Linked DNA regions of Homo sapiens: regions 1 and 2 are each reported to be linked to region 3. The links are microRNA targets in miRTarBase. Many come from high-throughput screens and were not tested one by one. Region 3 holds a microRNA gene; each other region holds the end of a gene's coding sequence.
The links. Region 3 holds the annotated microRNA hsa-miR-4455 (AGGGUGUGUGUGUUUUU, at 4,594-4,610, opposite strand). A microRNA usually pairs through its seed, bases 2 to 8, with sites in the 3' UTR of a target mRNA and lowers its output. Matches are read on the target gene's strand: a 7mer-m8 pairs with bases 2 to 8, a 7mer-A1 pairs with bases 2 to 7 and ends in A, and an 8mer does both.

Region 1: the mRNA of LHFPL6 is a reported target of hsa-miR-4455. The part of its 3' UTR that is shown has no 7-base or 8-base seed match.
Region 2: miRTarBase lists CBX1 as a target of hsa-miR-4455. Seed matches in the 3' UTR shown: 8mer at 6,107-6,114.

Annotation. Positions count from the first base shown.
Region 1 is chr13:39,338,011-39,345,196 of GRCh38, forward strand. It overlaps LHFPL6 (LHFPL tetraspan subfamily member 6), which reads right to left. Exons shown (of 4, transcript NM_005780.3): 4 at 4,882-6,044. The coding sequence ends at 5,926. Among named protein-coding and RNA genes, the nearest start is that of LHFPL6, 260 kb to the right of the region's middle.
Region 2 is chr17:48,065,141-48,072,326 of GRCh38, forward strand. It overlaps CBX1 (chromobox 1), which reads right to left. Exons shown (of 5, transcript NM_001127228.2): 5 at 4,919-6,439. The coding sequence ends at 6,295. Among named protein-coding and RNA genes, the nearest start is that of NFE2L1, 20 kb to the left of the region's middle.
Region 3 is chr4:184,933,828-184,941,028 of GRCh38, forward strand. It overlaps MIR4455 (microRNA 4455), which reads right to left and starts at 4,613; the gene lies at 4,556-4,613. RefSeq lists a silencer at 6,808-7,102.

The sequences.
Region 1 (7,186 bases), not on the chromosome of region 3:
TTATTTCAAAAGTGTCAGAAAGCTTAAAATTAAAAAGTTTATAAAGTAAAAAAGTTACAGTAAGCTAAAGTTAATTTATTGTTGAAGAAATAAAAATATTTTTATTAATTTATAATAGCCTAAATGTACAGTGTTTATAAAGTCTACACTAGTGTATGGTAATATCCTAGGCCTTCACATTCACTTACCACTCACTCACTGATTCACCCAGAGCAACTTCCAGTCCTGTAAGCTTCATTAATAGTAAGTGCCCTATATGGGTGCACCATTTTTAATTATTTTATTTTTTATTTTATTTTATTTTATTTATTTTATTTTATTATTTTATTTTATTTTTGAGACTGAGTCTCGCTCTGTTGCCAGGCTGGAGTGCAGCGGCATGATCTTGGGTCACTGCAACCTCCGCCTCCCAGGTTCAAACGATTCTCCTGCCTCAGCCTCCCGAGTGGCTGGGACTTCAGGCACGTGCCACCATGGCCTGCTAATTTTTGTATTTTTAGTAGAGATGGGGTTTCACCATGTTGGCCAGGATGGTCTCGATCTCCTGACCTCGTGATCCGCCCGCCTCGGCCTCCCAAAGTGCTGGGATTACAGGTGTGAGCCACTGCGCCTGGCCCATTTTTAATTTTTTATACCATTTTTTCACTGTTCCTTTCTATTTTAGATATGTTTAGATGCGCAGATACTTGTTATTGTGTTACAGTCACCTACAGTATTCAGTACAGTAACACGCTGTACAGGTTTAAAGCCTAGGAGCAACAGGTCATACCATACAGCCTAGGTGTGGAGAAGGCTGCACTATCTAGGTTTGTGTTAGTACACTCTATGATGTTCCCACAATGACAAAATTGCCTAACAACGCATTTCTTGGAATACATCTCCATCATTAAGCAATGCATAATTATATACCTAAAATTTCTCCTGAGCCTCAGCCCTTAATTTTCAACTACCTGCTAAGCATCTGTGTCTGGATATCTCACAGGTAATTTACACATACCAAGTCCTTAATTACACCAATTTTTGTGTGCGTCTTAAAAGGCCTTTATTTTTATTTGAAGTTTGTTTTTGTTTTTGAAGGATTTTTCTTGGGTATAGAATTTTATTTAGGTTGATGGTCTATTCCTTTATTTTTGTTATTTTTTAATTGACAATAATTGTATATATTTACTGTGTACAATGTGATGTTTTGATGTATGTATGCACTGTAGAATATGTTCTTTTCATGTCTTATCTCTATCTGTGGCACCCTCATCCACCCAACTCTCTTCCTTCCCTCTGTCTCTATTCCAAGGACCTACTGAGTTTATCCTGTTCTCTCTAATAGTTTCCCAGCCTCTCCATCTCTATTAATTTGGCCCAGTTTGGCCCTATCATTTCACACCTTGACATCCCCCTATTTGTTCACTTCCTTTTCCCAATCACTTAGACCATAGTAGATGCTCCGCTTTCTGTTGGTGGAATGATTACACTGTAACAATCTCTCTCCCCACTTCTGCCACCCAGTGTCTCACAATACTTCCTCCAGGGATCTAGTTAAGAAACATAAGTTGTTCATGCCACATCTTCCCCTATGTCAGATCCTCCCACTGCCTCCAATATCCATTTTAAATTTTGGTCCTTTTAGCATGGTACCCAAAGCACTGCCTGCCCTTCTCCCACCTCATCTTCCACCTGCCCAAATGCACCCCAACTGCTGCCATGTGAGATGACCCACAGTTCCATTAACCTTTAAGGCCCTCCATGCTTTTCTCTTTGATTAAGGCGCCATTAGAACACGATAAAGTGCAGTCTTTAAATGCATGTTATCAGTGGATTTTTGGCAAGTGTATACATCCATGTGGACACCACTCCAATCAATATGTAGAACATTTCCTTCATCCCAGAAAGTCCTGTTTCGTCCTCACCAGTCAATTCTCCCACCCACATAAGAGGGTAACCATTATTCTAATTTCCATGACCATGTATCAATTTTCCTCTGTGCTTCTTTTGCTCAACAGAATGTCTGTGGGATTCATCCAAGTTGATGTGTATACCATGTGTTCATTCCTTTTATTGCTGAGTAGTATTCCACTATCTAAATACACCACAATTTATGTATGTGCTGGTGAACATTTGAGTTGCTCCCAGTTTAGGGTTATTATGAACAAAATTGAAATGAACATTCTTATGTAATCTTTTTGTGAACATAGTTTTGTTTTGTTTTTTTGGCACAAATACCTAGGAAGGGAATTACTATGGTTCACTTAATAAAAATGTACCTATTGCTTTTCCAGCCATGTGTCCACATACTCAGCAACATTTGGTGTTGTCAATATTTTGTTTTAGTTGTTCTAGTGTATGTTAAGCAACATTTCATTGTGGTTCTGGAAGTTTCATTTTCTTCTCAACTAATGATGTTGAACACCTTTTCAGTGTAATTGGCCACTGGTATATTGTCTTTTGGGAAATACCCCATTCATGTTTTTACCCTTTAAAAATGGATTGTCCTTTTTATTATTCATTTGAGAGAGTCATGTATGTACTCAGAATACAAGTTCTTTACCAGATATATAACTTTTTCCAGTCGTTGACACATCTTTTTATTTTCTTAATGATGATTTTTGAAGAGCAGAACATTGTAATATATCATCTTTCATCTTTCTTTATACCTTTTTAATTTGTCTGTGCAGAATTCTTTACTTGGGAGGAACTTCCTCCCTGTCTTTGAGAATTAGTTGACATATGATTTGGTAATCACTGATGCTCCTGTTATTTTTTTCCATGAGCTTATGACTGACTTGAGAGCATGGGCTGTATTTTATTTAGCGTTTTATGTCTAGTAGAATACCTACCAAGTAGCAGGTGTTCAATGACTAGAGTCAATTAAATTTCATCAATTCACTTCTTTGCATGTCATTTTCTCTTCCTAAAAACAAGGTAAACTCCCCATTTACTGCACAGGCATGTGCAAGCAATGAAAGCTTTTAAGGTTGTGAAAATTGAGCTTTTTATTGTCTCTCATGTGTATATCAGTAAGAATGCTGTGAATATATACTTTTCACTGACTTTGTTATTGTTATTAGCTTATGAATTGTGATTTTCATTTCAAAAGCAGTATATGTAATTCTTAATAACTTAGATGTTCCTATTAAAATGCTGGGACATCTTGAGCAAAAAAAAAAAAAAAAAAAATGATATGACTAGCCAGAATTTGCCATTGCCATATAAGAGTTTGTCATTTGACTTTACCAGTAGAGTGGCTGATCTTTTATTCCAGTGAGGCTCACTAATGTCTAAAATCACATGAACTACATAAAAATGACAATGTCATCATTAAATCTGTCCAAGGAACTAGATCTTAATGAATTCCCTAGAGAACTCCAACTTGATAATGGGAGCTAAGAAGTCACAACACTACTCTACAGGAAGGTGCAGTTAAAAGAAATTTGAAAAGCACCAGCTATACATGAAAATAATGGGCTAATTGAGGAAGCAAAGTGCAATCTTTTCTTCTCTGCCGGAAACCACAGAGTGGAGAAGCCCCTGCTCAGCAGACAATGAGACACAATCAAATCACATTCAGCACAATATGAATTAAGCATCTGAGAGTGGAATGACTTTCTCCACACCAACAAAGCCTCAGAGTGTAGAATTTTATTGGTCAGATCCTGTATTGTTCTTCCAGAGCAGCATGGCTTCTCATCCTGGAATGATTAAAAGTACCAGAAGCAAGTGGAATAGTCAGATATTCAAACTAAATTGATAAATGTGTATAGATAGCATAGAAAATGTACTTACATGAATAAATAGCCAGCATGTTCAATTGCCAAATCTGAAAAGTACAATGAATGTAGAAGCTAACTGAAACTGAATTCTTAAGGATTTGCTACAATATCTCAGGCTTACTAAACAAAAGGCTAGATCCAATATTCAGAATGCAATCTTTGCTCCTGAAGGAGCTAGTTTTTGTTATTTGTTATTATTTATTTATTTTTTTGGTGGGGACAGGGTCTCGCTCTGTTGCCTAGGCTGGAGTGCAGTGTTGCAATCTCGGCTTACTGCAGCCTCCACCTCCTGGGTTCAAGCGATTCTTGTGCCTCAACCTGAGTAGTTGGGATTACAGGAGTGCATGACTATGCCCAGCTAATAATTTTTTTTTTTTTTTGGTATTTTTAGTAGAGATGGAGTCTTGCCATGTTGGCCAGGCTGGTCTCGAACTCCTGGCCTCATGTGATTTCCCCACCTCGGCTGGGATTACAGGTGTGAGCCATCACACCTAGCCCTGAAAGAGCTAGTTCTGTTAAGGGGCCATGTGAGGGTCCAAACCTTTCTCTTTGGTGAAGACTTTCTGCTGGAGGGGCAGGGCTGTTGAGATAAGCTTTTTCAAATGGCCAACATCCCTGAAGGGCAGTGATATAAAATTTTCCCTGACACAGAAGTACAGAAGAAACCCAGCACTTTGTAGAAGCTGGAGGAACAGCAAGTCACTGGCAACTGTAACAGTCGTGTCACCATGCTGGTGACTGTCAGTCCAGTCACCTCCTGAACCACAGTCTAGCTCTTGTTGCCCTAAATCACATCTGAATACCACCCATATTCTCAAACTTAATACAAAACAGACCTGAAGTTCTTCTGTCCTCAGAATTTGGTTATGATTGAAATGTAACAAGCAGGAAGTTAGAATTCTGGTTGCAAAGAATTCACGTTGAAAGCAGAAACTGTCTTACTCATCTTTAATACACTTGTGCCTAGAACAATGCCTGGTTGATTAGTGAGTGAATTAATGAGAGGCCTTAAAAGAGAAAAGGAAATTTTACAGGACTATAGTAGTTGAAGAGCTACATTGGAGAAATTAAAGAAGCAAATCCGATGACTGAATTAACACTCCATGACTCATCTAGCTATTGATCAAAGAGAGAATTTATTCACAGAGATTTTCAAATACAAACAAAATAGCACTTTTAAATTTTTTACAAAATGAATATAGAAATAAATGTGGTACAGCACAGTACAATAATGGACAAAAGAAAACACGATCCAATGACTGGAAAATGTCTCTCATTACTCTCATATCTTCGGCTGAATTCTCTCCTATAGTGGACAGAAAGTTGCCCCTTTTCTTCATAAGAATATCATAGCAGAAGCTACTCAGAGAAATATTGCATATTGTGGAATAACATGGAAATACAAAGGCTTAACTCTAAAGGTCTGCATAAACACTGAAAATATGTTGAGGAACTAAATTAGAGTTTATGCAGGATATACAAAATACTGATAGTTTGGCTTATTGGTCCATTTATTAGGCTTAATGTATGTTTTATAAAGTGATAATACTGTATTTTAAATGTATATTAAAAAGAAAACAGAGGAGAAATGCACCACTAAACCTCCCAGTCTGTGCGATAATCCACGTTTGTGCATAGGCGTGTGTGGGGATGCATATGTCTGTATGTGCTTGTGTGCTTTTGGGAGTGCCGTGACCTACAGGGAACATCTTTGGGGGTACCCTGCTTCCCAACATAACACTGTTTCTACTAGCCCTTTGATTTTCTGAGTCCTCACCTTAAAAAAAAAAAACTAAAACCCAAACCCTTGTTTGTATATGTAGATTTGTTGTGTGTGTGTGTGTGTGTGTGTGTGTGTGTGTGTGTGTGTGTGTGTTGTACATTAACAATACTCTGTGGAATAGAAACACCCGATGCCCTGCAATATTTTTAGCCTTTGGTCCATTTTTCTCCATCATTCTATACTCTCCTTTTTTTTCCCCCACAAATCTCCTACAATCCTTCCTTCCTATATCATGTTCCTGATTTTATCGGGTTTCATTTTATTAGCATTGTATTGGATTAGAACTACTATCCCACCTTTTGAAGGTAGGTGGATGTTTTGACCTCTCCAAGCCCCTTTGGCCCATCTTCTCCTCTGTCTGCTCTTGGTAGCTCCATCTCAGTATGGGTAGTGCTTCTGTTTCTTGCCCGAAAAGCAAGCCAGCCACGTGCACAGCAGCATGGCGGCAGTGGCACCTGCTCCCGTGCAGTAGTAGGCCCAGCCGATTTCACACTTCCCTAAGGACAAAGGAAGGGGAAAGAAGAAAGTCACAGATGAGGATGATTTTGCAGCAGGGTTTCTTATTGCTTCCAGTGTGTGGGTTCTGAAACACCCTTTAGGAATATGGTATCCTCGCTTAAATGGAATAATAATGTGCTGAAAGTTATCTTGACAGTGAAGAAAGCAAGAATGGCTGGATGCATTTCAGAAGGATCTCAATGTCTACCTCTCACACGGGCTAAGAGAAGTCTAGTCTCCTCCACCAATATCCACACCCTGGCCAAAAATAGAGAAGAATGGCAGCAACCAGGATAGGAGATGAAGGAGTTAATTGTAACTTACATCACCCAAGCTCACCTGCGTAACAAAGTACTTTAGGGAAAAAAATATAAATGTTGATGCAATCCTTCTGCAAAAGGGCCACTTTGAGGAGGCAACCCATTTGAAGGATAATGGCTAATGCTAAGGTGAATACTGCCATTTATGTGGAATGGTCAAGTGACTTACTCTCTACTGTCTGAATCAGAAAACAAAAATTCCCAGATTCTTCTGGGATCAACACTCACCTTGAAGATAAAGTGTCATTTAAATGAAAATATAATGACAAGCATCCAAGTGGGTCCTGATTTCTCAGAGTTGGATTAGTCTTAATATTCATAACAAACCCAAAATATTAAAAATATGTAAGTAGATTTATTTATCTGTATTGTCTTTGTCAATTCTTTTATCAACATTATAAGGTAGAATACTAGCTCAACATGGTTGACAAAAAAGCTTCTCAGCATTTAAAGAAGTTGGTGACTTACCCATAGTCATATGCTTATAATTTGGAATAAAGTGAGCCAGGGCTCAAATCTGGGTTCTAGATCCCAAGAATAGGTCGGTGTCCCCAGATGGGTTAATGGAATGGATTTCTGCATTCATTAGCTTTTTCTTTCTTAATGACATCCAAGTTATTCTTTTTGTGTGCACAGTAAAGAAGGCCTCTATATCTTATACTGGACACTGTACTTTCTGCTTCAATTCTAATTCATTTTTCAGCCGGTCTTACCATCTTATCAGATGATGCTCCAACAGCAACCATGTTCCTCCTTTTGGTTCTTGCTTTGCATTACATTAGATACAAACATAAACACCAAGACATTTGGATTTCACAGTC
Region 2 (7,186 bases), not on the chromosome of region 3:
TGTCATTTTGTCAATATACCAAAAATAACCTTTCTTTTTACCTTTACTGTATTACACAGAAGTCAATCATCTTCCTTGCCTCCCGCTCTGAACTTTGGAGTGGAGAATGAGCCATTTGGGGACTATGGGGAAACTTACCACTATGTGTGAAACTTTACAAGTTCTAGTCCTTGTTCTGTTCAGTTCGTGTCTGCCTGAATTAGCCGAGAAACAGAATTTAGTACACGTATTGTCTCTGGAGTAGTGTGAGAATCTGGTACCTTGCAGAAGAGGGCTGTTTTCAAAAATTAGCTGGATAGAAGTCTTTGTCTTCCCTTTTGAATACACCATACCAACAAAGGTCTTAAAGCTGTTTTTTTTTTTTTTTGAGACGGAGTCTTGCCCTGTCACCCAGGCTGGAGTGTAGTGGCGCAATCTTGGCTCACTGCAAGCTCCGCCTTCTGGGTTCACGCCATTCTCCTGCCTCAGCCTGCCAAGTAGCTGGGACTACAGGCGCCCGCCACTGCGCCCAGCTAATTTTTTTGTATTTTTAGTAGAGATGGGGTTTCACCATGTTAGCCAGGATGGTCTTGATCTCCTGACCTCATGATCCGCCCGCCTTGGCCTCCCAAAGTGATGGGATTACAGGCGTGAGCCATCGCGCCCAGCCTGCTGTTTTGGTTTTTTTTTTGGAGACAGGATCTAGCTTTGTCACCCACGCTGGAGTGCAGTGGCGCGATCTTGGCTCACTGTAATACTGCCTCTAGGCTCAAGCTATTCTCCCACCTCAGCCTCCTGGTAGCTGGCATACAGGCGTGCATCACCATGCCCGGCTAATTTTTGTATTTTGGGTTTCGCCATGTTGTCCAGTCTGGTCTTGAACTCCTGAGTTCAAGCGATCTGTCCGCCTCAGCCTCCAAAGTGCTGGGATTACAGGTGTGAGCCACTGCGCCCAGTCCTAAAGCTGCTTCTTTTCCAGCCTAACTTAAACTGCAGAATGGAGATAGGTTGCACAGTATTTTTTACTTAATTCTAGATGCTCTTCAACTAAGGAAACAAAAAATCTAGTTCACCTGGGGAGAGGTGGAGAATAGACCAAGGAGTTGGCATTCTGCCTTTTGTGTCAAACACAAGTGTAACTGGGGTAATAACAGTTGACTTGAACTTTCCAATTCTCAATTAGGGGCTGAAGCAGTAATTGAAATGGGCTAGTGTCCCAAAGCCAGGCGTCAAAGTTGCCCAGCCTGACCCTAACTATGCAAATAGCAAAAAGGGCAGGCTTGGTCAAAGTCAACTAGGATTTAAAAATCCATTTGGGGTAAACAGTGGCTTTGGTACTATCACAAACCACCATACAAACCAACAAGGTCACAAGGCAGACCCAATTGTGCTGCTGGTATATTGTAAAACAGGTTATTTAATACAACCAAAAACTACAGAAGCTGAATTGTCAGCACCTATTCTAAACTTGATATTTAGCCTTCCCTCACTTTTGCCACTTCATTAGCCTAAGAAAAAAAAAACAAAACAAAAAGCCTTTAAAAGGCACTGCTCTGCTTGCCCCCACAAAGGAGGGCCAACTGTGCTTTTCATCCCAGCAGGATGGTTTTATTTCACATTTCATTTGTTTTCAACATTCAGTAGTTTATTCAACAGTCAACAGGAAACTTACAAGGCCAAGGTCAATTAAGTCATCCATAAGAGAAACAAGTAACTTTAAACTTCACACACTAGATAGGAAAGCAGTAACTTTTGGGGAAAAAACCTCAGTGCTGGACATCGTCAAAACAAGGTGATGTGCAGATCCACAGATTGACAAGTTGTCTTGGGATCTTAAGCTCTCCTCTATCAAACTCCTGTAATCCCACACCAAAACACTAGGATGCCTCTCCCTGATCATTGTTTCCTAGTGCTGAAAGCCAAGACTCCTTTATTAAGTTGAACGCTAATACTGAGCCTGGACTTAGTTCAGTTCTATCAGCTTTAAATTATAAATAAGAACATATCTTCATCAGAAGACCCAACTTGCACATTAATCCAAGCTATCATTTTCCCTTTTACTATGAGAAATAATTGCTTTATAATGCAGATTCCCAATGCCACAGTCCATAAAGATGTGCCAAGCACACAGACAAACCCCAAATGGCGCAAGTTTAACATCAAATTGAGCCAAGTCTATGGCCACCACAGAATTGAGAGTTCTGGAATATAAGGTCATATCTGAAAACAGGTATTTAAAAATTTAATTAGGCAAGGTGCAGTGGCTTACACCTGTAATTCTAACACTTTGGGAGGCAGAGACAGGAGGACTGCTTGAGCCCAGGAGTTCGAGACCAGCCTGGGCAACACAGTGAGACCCCATCTCTACTAAGTTAAAAAAAAAAAAAAGAAAAAAAGAATTAGCTGGGCATTATGGCACACACCTGTAGTCCCAGCTCAGGAGGCTGAGGTGGGAGGATCCCTTTAGCCCAGGAGGATGAGGCTGCCGTGAGCCATGGTAGCACCACTGCACTCTAGACTAGGTGACAGAGACCATTTCTCTCCTCAAAAAAATAAATAAAAATTTAATTACTAAAAATCACTTAAAATTGGTCGTCAAAATTTTCAAATGATATTAAATGCAGGAACAATTATTCCTCAGCACTGTCAGAGTGTTTCTGTGGTCATTATTCCATCCATTTACAATACTAAATAGAAACTTACTTAAGGCAATGGAGGAGCAAGATTTTTGTTTAATGGCTCTACCAGTACAGGACACCTCAGGTAATAATGATGTCACAATATTAACAAGCTCCCCTTTTCTAATAGTAACTAAGATAATTTATTGCCTCTTTAATTCCTGGGCAGGTCTATGATGGTGCAATTTCATGGAAACCACCCAACAAACATGTTTTTCCACTGCCTGAAGAAATATTCTTTGGCTGGGAGTGGTGGTTCACGCCTATAATCCCAGCACTTTGGGAAGCCAAGGCAGGTGGATCACTTGAGGTTAGGGGTTCGAGACCAGCCTGGCCAACATGGTGAAACCTCATCTCTACCAAAACTACAAAAATTAGCCAGGTGTAGTGGGGCATGCCTGTAGTCCCAGCTACTCGGGAGGCTGAAGCAGGAGAATCGCTTGAACCCAGGAGGCGGAGGTTGCAGTGAGCTGAGATTGTGCCACTGCACTCCAGCCTGGGTGACAGCGAGACTCTGTCTCAAAAGAAAAAACAAAAAACAAAGAAATATTCTCTGAATACTTTCTCAAGCTGACCTAAGATTTGTTGTGCCTACTTATAACAGTTTGAATTTGTGGCCTCAACAATCAAAAAAGTTGATCCTTAAACTACTGATCTAGTAATATGCCAATTGGCTTTTGAAAATAACAAAATTGTGACTACCTAGCTTCAACTCAGTTTTCACTGCATGCCTATCAGTATTACTGTTTTCTCTGGGGGAGAATGATACAGTTTTTACAACAGCTCAGGAATGCCACAAATGACAAGTCAGTCAGTTCCAAAGGTTAAGACCAAAGCTGACTAGCAGTCCATTTGGGATACAAACCAAGGCTGTAGTTTCATTTCAGTGCATCTGATGGTGCAGAACAGAACCAGAACACCTCCACTTAAACTCCCTTAATTAGCTACCGACTGCTGTGCTACTGTCAACCACCACCAGGGCACACACTCAGACCTCTGTGCGGGAAGGCCTGTCTGTGACCCAGACCTTCAGTAAGGCTCCCCAGCTCCACTTATGTCTCCTGAGAACTTTCCTGAGGAGGCTTTCTGAAAAAATTATCTACACATCAGTTTATTTTAAACAAATGCTTTGCACGAGTGAGTAGTACTCAACTGTTACACTGATTTGTTCTCAGTGGAAATCCTATGTCTGTTACAAAAATGACAAGTTGGCCGGATGTGGTGGCTCATTCCTGTAATCCCGCACTTTGGAAGGCCGAGGCGGGCGGATCATGCGGTCAGAAGATCAAGACCATCTTGGCCAACATGGTGAAACCCTGTCTCCACTAAAATACAAAAAATTAGCCGGGTGTGGTGGTGCACGCCTGTAGTCCCAGCTACTCAGGAGGATGAGGCAGGGGAATCGCTGAACCCAGGAGGCGGAGGTTACAGTGAGCTGAGATCGCACCACTGCACTCCAGCCTGGCAACAGAGCAAGACTAAAAAAAAAAAAATAAAAAAAAATAAAGGCAAGTCCAAGGCCAGGCACAGTGGCTCATGCCTGTAATCCCAGCACTTTGGCAGGCCGAGGCAGGTGGATCACCTGAGGTTAGGAGTTCGAGACCAGCCTGGCCAACATGGCAAAACCCCATCTCTACTAAAAAAATTTAAAAATTAGCCAAGTGTGGTGGCACGCGCCTGTAGTCCCAGCTACTCTGGAGGCTGAGGCAGGAGAATCGCTTGAACCTGGGAGGCAGAGGTTGTAGTGAGCCGAGATCACACCACTGTACTCCAGCCTGGGTGACAGCAAGACTCCATCTCAAAAAAAAAAAAAAAAAATCATAGGCAGAAAATGACGTTTTAAATCAGTGCGCAAACACAGGGCCAAATTCCTGGAAAATTTTGGAGAAGTAGATTTTAGCCAAGGTCATATAATCTATTACATACCATAGGCAGGATCTAAACCTAACTTAAAAACCCATGTTTCCAAATATACCATAGTTTGGAAGTGCTATCAGGTCAGAGTGCTCAATAAACTTTTGGCAGTACTGAAGACAGCATGATGCGACCATCTTTACAACCTCTGCAGCAACTGATAAATGCCCAGTAAGTATTTACTAAATTAACATGGTGTGACCACTTAAAGATTCAGGCCAGGCACTAGATTTTCAAGCCTACAGTGTTCAAGAAATAAAACCATTCAAGTGAGGAAGCCATTTCCAACAGGCTGAACCTATAAGGCAAGAAGGGTTCCTGGTAAGACTTAAGACAGAAATCAGGGATTATAAATCTATAGTTTTATTAAGACAAAAACTGACAATGTAGTATGAAGTTTACATTTAAACAAAGTTTACACAGAAATCTAACACATGCCTAAAAGAATTTTACAACGTAGCTCTAGATGCAAGTCTAGACAATATCAAGAACTGATGGTTCTCATGACTCAAGACAGAGCATTTTGGGTATGTTACTTATTAGGATTTCTTAAAAAATTGTTTTGTGTGTGTATGTGTGTGTTTTAAAGTGAACCACTGCCCAATATGAAAGTTTAATCTTCTCCTGAGACCAAGGCTTTTGAAATCACTAAACTCTTGGATCAATTCAGTGAAACTTGTGCTGTCAGTGACTGAACCCTGCCAACAATGGTTTCAGTGTTCAAAGCTCAAAGTAAACGGCTCCAAGAGTTTTCCCCACTAAGAGCATGGGCCCTTGTCTTTCCCTACTGTCTTACCTCCTCTACCACCCTCTTCCTCTTCCTAACACCTCAGCCAGTGGCTTGGATGAACAAGCTGATATTTATAACTTCGTTACTGGAAAAGAAAGGGTCTTCTAATTTCGGGAATTAGCACCTCTAAGGCAGAATGATCTGCTTGTACTGTATACTCTCCAATAAAAGACCTTCCCTCCTCGTCAATTTCCATCTCCAAAATGGCAACTTTGGTAACTTATGAACAGGCTTAGTCCTTTGTGGGAACAGCAATAAGTTTAGGCAGGGAACACCTTGGCTTATAGGTTTCAGACTTTCACAGCTTTTAAACAGTCTCTCACAGTCCTTATTTATGGTGCCAATGACATTTTTTTAAAGGTAAAATATTCTGGACATAGAAGCAAATCATTAGTTGTCTGTTCTTTTCCATTGCTTCACCATTTCCCCTATCAGGCCCCAAATGTTAATCAAAATGATGCTACCCATCTCCCTTTCTCCCCTCCCCATCCCTCCCTCCCCCAAATAATACACCAGTAATAGCCAAAAACTACACACATGCTACGCTGTAAAAATGCAGAGTTAACACTATTGGGAAGAAGGCTGTGGGTTGTGGAGATGCTCTTTGAAGATCTACAGTATTTTTTTGCTCTCCCACACACCCAATTCTGCAAGTTTTGTCCTTCATAGAAGGCCCTTTGCTTTTCGCAGCAAAGTGCAGAAAAGGTTGCCTTGAAACACTTATCCCCTTTCCCCTCCACTGGGATGGGTGTGCAAACTATACAGCTTGAAACGGCTTTAAAGCACTTGGGCTGCTGCAGGGCACAGAAACTATACTGGCTCTTCAAAGGACATCTTCTCAAGCCACCTCTATGGTGTCAAGACAAGTAGAACTCCTTCCCTTCCCACTTGAAACCCACAGTCAGATGTGACAGGGGCTGGTACTCAGGAGCGTTAGTTCTTGTCATCTTTTTTGTCATCATCCTCCGAGGGGTAGGAATGCCACGTCAGCCTTTCCTCATAGAAGGATATGACAACCTGTGGGCACTTGACATTGGCTTCCTTGGCAGGGACCAGGTCAGCCTCATCAGAGTTTTTCCTGCAGAATAAAGCAAAGAGAGACTTTGAGACCAGGTGCTGGTGGTCTATCCTAAGTTGGATAACCCAGGGGACAGTGCTTTAAAAATGGTAATTTTAGAAAAATAGGCTAGGGAACAATGAAAACGTGGCCCAAGCAGCATTTACTGGCAATTGTATGTCAAGTGACATCCTCAGAGTTAACTCTCCTGTTGAAAATTCCCTCTGGGGATTCGTGTATGTCAAAAGCCAGGTCAATGGACTTAACCAATCACATCTGAACATCTGGGCAAGGCCCCAAAAAGCATGACTCTCTAGATTCTCTGAGGGAAGAGAGGATACCTAGATTCTCTGAGGGAAGAGAAGTTACCACACTCCTCCAAAAGCCATATCCCAGCTGATAAGAACCCATGGAGAAATCTTGGCTTTGTAATAGGATTTTTTTTTTTTTTTTTTTGAGACAGAATCTCACTCTGTTGCCCAGCCTGGAGTGCAGTGGCATGATCTCGGATCACCACAACCTCCACCTCCTGGGTTCAAGCGATTTTCCTGCCTCAGCCTCCCCTAATAGCTGGAATTATAGGTGTGCGCCACCACACCCAGCTAATTTTTGTATTTTTAGTAGAGATGGGGTTTTGCCATCTCTACTAAAGATGTTGGCCAGGCTCATCTTGAACTCCTGACATCAGGTGATCCACCTGCCTCAGCCTCCCAAAGTGTTGGGATTACAGGCATGAGCCACCTCGCCCGGCCCGTAATAGGATTAAAT
Region 3 (7,201 bases):
CCAGTGCTCTTGGAATGAAATTCAAGGAATATAAATTATATTCACACAGTGCCTCTAGAATACACATTTTGTGTGAAGTTAGAAGAAAAATTGCTTTTTTATTTAAAGTAAATTATAATGAACTAGATCAGCTTTTTTTTTTTTTTCTCACTCAGCCTACAAACTAGTTGACAGCAGTGATTATCCGTTGTTGAAAACAGCAGACAACTGTCTTGATGACTTCCATTTTCAGGTTTCTGAGGCTGGGGTGGGGGCGGTTGCGGGGAGAGGCAACTCCTCAGAATCTTTATTAGATTCTCTGCTAAGTAATAATACAAACATGAAGTAGGGAAATCAAGGTAATATCCCTTCAAAGTGAGGTTTCTTTTTTCTTATTTCAAATTTATCCTGATAAATGCAAATTAAAACAAGGAGATACCTCTTTACACCTAGCGGAATGTCTAAAAACAAAAACAAAACCCCTGACATTACCAAGTGCTGGTACAGATGGGAAGCAGCTAAGTAAAACCCTCACACATTGCTGGGGAGTGCAAATAGTGCAACCAGTTTGGAAAACAGCTTAGTGGTTTCTTTTAAAGATAAACATTCACTTTTCATATGACTCAGCCATTCCTCTCCTAGGTATCACCCAAGAGAAATGAAAATGTATGTTTCCATAAAAATCTGTATGCAAATATTTATAGCAGCTTTATTCATAATTGCCAAACACTGGAAGCAATCCAACTGTCCATTAACAGGTGAATGTGAAATCGAACTGGAAAATACATACAATGAGATATACCCAGTAATAAAGAGGGATGAACTAGGAATACATACAGCAACTTCTCAAGGGTGTTACACTAAGTGAAATCAACAAATCTCAAAGGTTGCATATTGTGTGATTCCACTTAGGTAACATTTTTGAATTGGAGAACAGATTAGTGATTTCCAGGGACTATAAGTGGCGGGGAAGGAAGGAGTAGAGAGACTACAGAGGCGACGCACGGGGTAGATGTCAGTGGTGGTGGAGGCGGTTCTGATACTGGTTGAGGTGGGGTTATGGGAACGTGCACATGTGATAAAATGGCAAACATGATATTGTTGGGGCTCAGAAAACGGCACCCCAAAGGGAGACCTCAGAAGCAGCTCTCTCTCACCTTCTCCGGTCTTCCTGTCACTGGCCCCTGATTCTCCCCTGAAGCTAGTCATGGAAACTAGAATCCCTCCTACCCAAGTGGCCTTTCTGTGTAAAAACTGGACATAAGGAAATTATCTGACCCACCTTGTTTGACTTTAGGTCATGAGAACCCCATTCCAGAGAGGGCCCTGCCCCACACCCAGAAAGAAAGAATGCTGCCCAGAGAGGCCAAGAAGAATCCGGACAGACAGGCCTCGCCGGGTTTCCCTACTCAGTCTCTCAGCATTAGATGTTACCCTTTTTGTCCAATAGTATCTCTACACGGCTGCCCATACCTAAGCATAAAAATGGATGGTTTCCCCTGTATCTTTGAGCTCTTATGTCACATAAAACTCTGATTAAATAAATGTGCATGCCTTTCCTCCTTTTTTTTTTTTTTTTTGAGACGGAGTCCCACTCTGTTGCTCAGGCTGGAGTGCAGTGGTCCCGTCTTGGCTCACTGCAACCTCCGCCTCCCAGGCTCAAGCAATTCTCCTGCCTCAGCCTCTCCAGTAGCTGGGATTACAGATACGCGCCACCACGCCTGGCTAATTTTTGTATTTTTCGTAGAGACGGGATTCCACCATAGTTGGCCAGGCTGGTCTCAAACTCCTGGGCTCAAGCGATCCACCCGCCTCAGCTTCCCAAAGTGCTGGGATTACAAGTGTGAGCCACCATAATCCCTTTTCTCCTATTAATCTGCCTTCTGTCAGTTGATTTTCAGCAAACATTCAGAGGGCAAAGCGGCAGTTTTCCCTCCACTCCTACAATGTCAGCATCAATGTCCTGCTCCTGATGGCATGCTGTAATTGTATAAGATGTAGCCATTGGAGGAAACTGGCTGAAGGGTACAAGGGACCACTTGGTATTGTCTTTGCAGCTTCCTCTGACTCTATAATTACCTCAAAATTAAAAGCTTATATATATGATAATAAAGTTATATATCATGTATATGTTACATATACATATAAGCACACACAAACATGCATGTATATACACACATGCATTCATAAACATATTGTTGTAGGAGTTACTAAGAAATTATTTTAGGCAGATAGAGAGGAGAAGGGGTCCTTGGGAAGTTTTCATTTCTTTTAAAGCACCTCCAAAAACGTTTCTTGTCTAGCAGAAAAGCTCCGGCTCTTAGAGCTGAGCTGGCAACCTTTAGTATGCAAACGCCAGCCATTAGAAACTGGATCCACCCAACATGGCGATTCCCATCATTGTCCTCTTGCCCTTGCCCCACACGTTCCTGGCAACATGGCTGCCCCCACATATCCCCAAGTATGTAGAACATCATGGCACCCTGCATTTGCATATTAAAAGACTAGGGTGGGAGGGTCAGTTTTTTTCGAGGGCTACATGAATGACTTACCTGGTCAAACCAATCCCCTGAGCCCTGTGCAAATCAAACACCATCTCCTCCAGCCTCTTCATATAGCTGGCTGGTATCCTGGCATGTGGGGTCTCCTCTTTCAGCTTTGGAGCCCCCCTCCCTCTGTCTCTGTATGGAGGAGCTTCTTCCTTCTGACTTCTCCCATCTTTCTTGCCTATTAAACTCTCTGCTCCTTAAAATCACACCAGGTGTGTCCGTGTCGTTTTTTCCAATTCAACTCGAGAGGAAGAACCTGGTATTCCTCCATTCATCAGAGCTGTATCAATATGATACGATAATATGGGTGAATCTCAAATATATTATGCTAAGTGAAAGAAGCTAGGCACAAGAGGCTACATCCCAAATTACTTCATTTATATGACACTCTGGAAAAGGTCGGACTAGGGACAGAGGATGGATCAGTGGTTCCCAGGGATTCCAGGTGGGGCAGCACGAGGGTGTATAGGATGATAGAGCTGTCCTGTATCCTCTCTGTGGTGGTAATTACTTGAATCTATGTATGTGTTAAAACTTGAAGAACTGTGCACCAAAAAGAGTGAATTTTACTATACATACATTTAAAAGTAAACTTTAAAAAGTGGCTTGTCAGCAATGCACAGAACAGCTCATTTCTATTGCAACAAACTATTGTGATTACTTTTGTATAAGTTACACATTTGGTCTTCACAATTTGAACCCCAATTGTGACACTATGCAAAGGGGGAAAAGTTCCCTGAGATTGTGTGATCAGTAAAAGATTATATTTACATTTAAATATCTTCAGTGTTTTTGACTTTAGCAAGACAAATGAGAATCTTTGATGGTGTTTGGTTTGTTGACCAGCCAGTTCAAATTACAGCTGGGTGGTTACCAAAGCTGGACAGATTACAGTATGGAATTAAAGTCTGAACAGAGTATGGGAATGCTAGCTTGAAACAAAAATAGAGTTTTGGGGAAAAAGAGCTTGGGAATTAATTGCATTCCTTGAATTCATTCCTTGGAAGTGTTTCATGCTGGCTCCCACAGTGGCTCAGGTGTACATGCTTTGTTTAGTAGTTGATCCTTTGAGCCATAGGAATTTTGGAATGTAATATGTTTGTTCTCCACCCACCCCGTGCCCATGAATCTCTTTTAGTAGGTTGATTTATTCACTCTTTAACTTCTATTGCACCTGAGTATACCAACAGTAGGATTAGGCTAGAAAGTATGCAGTCATAAGCTGAAATCAACAGGGACAAGTGATTAACAGGTGGACAGTGTTGAGCTTGCCAGGTCACCACTCTCATGGTCAATATTTTCTTTGTGCTATTTTTGGCTTGGTTCCACATCAGAGAGTTCAAACTCTGAAGTTGTAAAGATACTGCTTTTAAGAAAAATCAGCTCATGTCTGGACCTTGATTTAATCGTTTATTCATCTTTTTATAGTACTCTCTGTTCCCAAGATAAGCTACTTTATAAGGCAAAATTTCCACCTCGGCATCATTTCATATAAACATTTAATGCTGAAACTCCAGGTTACATCTGGCGTCTAATGATGAACGCAGACAGATGCTCCTATCCAGCCATGCCCTCTGCCACTCCGCGGGGTGCTGCTTTCCATTTCCTCTCTGTGTCTGTCAGCACCAGGGCCGAGCTTTTCTTCCGGGATAGATGCTGAGCTGACTCTGCACTCAAAGCGCTTCAAATGATGCTGATTGAAATCAGATGCTATAAAATGTTCATCACTTAGTTTCATTTATTAGTTTAGAGTGGCGTGCTATGCAAGCTTTTTGCTGTTTATTTATATTTTTACTTTAACTTTTATTAAAGTAATACAAGCATGAATTTTATAGAGCCAAACAATTCTACAATGTTCATTAACACAAATAGTAGTTGCTCCTTGCCTCTTCTCCAGAAACACCACTTTCAATTATCTTAGCTAATGCTATTGTCAGTAACCTCTACATCTCTAAATAAAATGCTTATATTGCTTTCCTTGATTTTTCAGCTTTATGCATTCATCTATTGGCTTATCCCTTTGCAAATGAAGAATTTGGCTGTCCTTCCTTCTCTTATTCTCAGGAAAAACACACACACCCTTCTCATCTGCTTATCTTTCTAATCTGGTTATATCATAATTTTTGTTAGCTCTTTGTTGAGCATTTATATGATTACAACCATGAAAATACTAAACTAAGCCATGCATCAAACTATAATGACTTTTCCTATCCTAGCCACTCTTTGCTTCCCTGGATTAAAATTTTATTATTATTATTGATGCTTATCACTAATTCAAACACAAACTCACTTAATTATACAAACATCCTCTTAAGACAGTCAGAGCATCACATATCTTATCAATCCAATCTTCACAAAATCTCTCCCAGATTCTCCAACATACTTCAGTCTAGATCGGCAGTCCCCAACCTTTTTGGCACCAGGGACCGGTTTCATGGAAGACAATTTTTCCACAGACAATGGGGGATGGTTTTGGAATGAAACTGGTCCACCCTAGATCATCAGGCATTAGATTCTCATAGGAGCATGCAACCTAGACCACTCGCATGTGCAGTTCAGAGTAGGGTTCATGCCCCTGTGAGAATCTAATGCCACCAGTGATTCGACAGGAGGCTGAGCTCGGGCAGTAATGCTCACTCACCTGTCATCTATCTCCTGCTGTGTGGCCCGGTTCCTAACAGGCCACCGACCAGTACCAGTCCACAGCCCAGGAGTTGGGGACCCCTAGTCTAGACCGTTCTCAACAACTGGGGCCAAACTGTCAACCTGGGACTTCTCCATCTTCCTGGGAATTCCCTTCACTTCTCTCATGTTGGATCTCCTGTTTCCTGTACGTCTTCTTTCCTGATTTACTCCTTTATCTTGGTGAAGCATATCTTTTAGCAACTTCCTACTATGAAGGAATAAAGGTGCATAGGAAATACAATATCTGGAACATTGCCTTTCTAAGATGTCTTTATTCAATCCTCATACTCAATTGATTTTTTTTTTTTTTTTTTTTGAGATAGAGTCTCGCCGTGTCGCCCAGGCTGGAGTGCAATGGCGTGATCTTGGCTTACTACAACCTCCGCCGCCCAGGTTCAAGTGATTCTTGTGCCTCAGCCTCCCAAGTAGCTGGTACTACAGGCGCCCGCCACCAAGCCCGGCTAATTTGTTTGTATTTTTAGTAGAGACAGGGTTTCACCATGTTGGTCAGGCTGGTCTCGAACTCCTGACGTCAGGTGATCCGCCCACATTGGCCTCCCAAAGTGCTAGGATTACAGGTGTAAGCTAACACACCCAGCCCTTAATTGATATTTTGACTATGTATAGAATTCTGGCTGGGTGGGGTGGCTCACACCTGTAATCCCAGCACTTTGGGAGGCCGAGGTGGGCAGATCACGAGGTCAGGAGATCGAGACCATCCTGGCTAACTCGGTGAAACCCCGTCTCTACTAAAAATACAAAAAATTAGCCGGGCGTGGTGGCAGGCGCCTGTGGCCCAACTACTTGGGAGGCTGAGGCAAGAGAATGGCGTGAACCCAGGAGGCGGAGCTTGCAGTGAGCCGAGATCTCACCACTGCACTCCAGCCTGGGCAACAGAGCGAGACTCTGTCTCAACAAACAAACAAACAACAAAAAAAAAGAATTCTAAGATAGTAGTTATTTTTCTTCAAATGTTTGAAGGCCTTGCTGTCTTGTCTTCTAGCCTCTGCCATTACTGTTGAGAAGCCTGATGACATTCTGATTTGATCCTTTGTATCCTTTAATCTTCTCAGATCCTTTCTTTATCCCAGCAGTTCTAAAGTTTCCCAGTGACATGCCTTGATTTATGTCTGTTTTTATCTACCATGCGTCAGTCTAAAAGCTTACATCATTCTTGTCTGGGAAACTGTTCAAATTACTTACCAAAATATTAACGAATGATTTTTTCCTTTCCATTTTTTTCTGTTCTCTTTTTCTGAATCTCCTATTATTTAGATATTGGACCTCCTGGACTAGTCTTCTAATTTTTTAATTTGTTCTTTTTTTTTTTTTTTTTTTGCTCTACTTTTTGGGAGAGTTCTTCAATTTTATCTTTCAATTTATTAAGTAAGCTTTAAACATTTTCTAGAATGGTTCTAAATGTTTAAAGCTCCTCGTTCTTCAAAAGTCTCATTTTTGTGTCATTCTATTGCTGTTCCAAGGGTGAAATATCTCTTCGTGTCTCTTGAGCTAGTACTGGTAAGTTTTTAAAAGAGCTGCTCTGTTTTGTCCACATTGTTTTTTACATTGGTTTGTCTTGGTCTGGATCTTTCACTTAGAATTTTCCTCACGTGGCTCGAATCCATGATCACGTGCTCATAAGAGCAAGAGGAAACTGAGTATGTGGGTCGTTAACAGTGAACTTCACCCTGGGCTGAGCTGGCCGAACTGTTTCACGGGAAACTCATAATCAGTATCTGTAAGATCTTCTTGGGCTGGTCAGATCCCCACAGGACTTTTTTTAGTCTCTTGCCTGGAGGATAATTGCCTGGCTAGGTTGACAGCATTCTGAGCTAAGGAAGACGGAGAGGACTGCAGGTCTCAGAATCCAGTGAGAATCTACTTACCTAGTCTCCCTATTTCTGGGATAGCACCCACTTCCACCTATGCCTACTGTCCCCTAGTCAGAAGACCTGTATTTTCTCTACAGAGAATAAATATCTAATAGT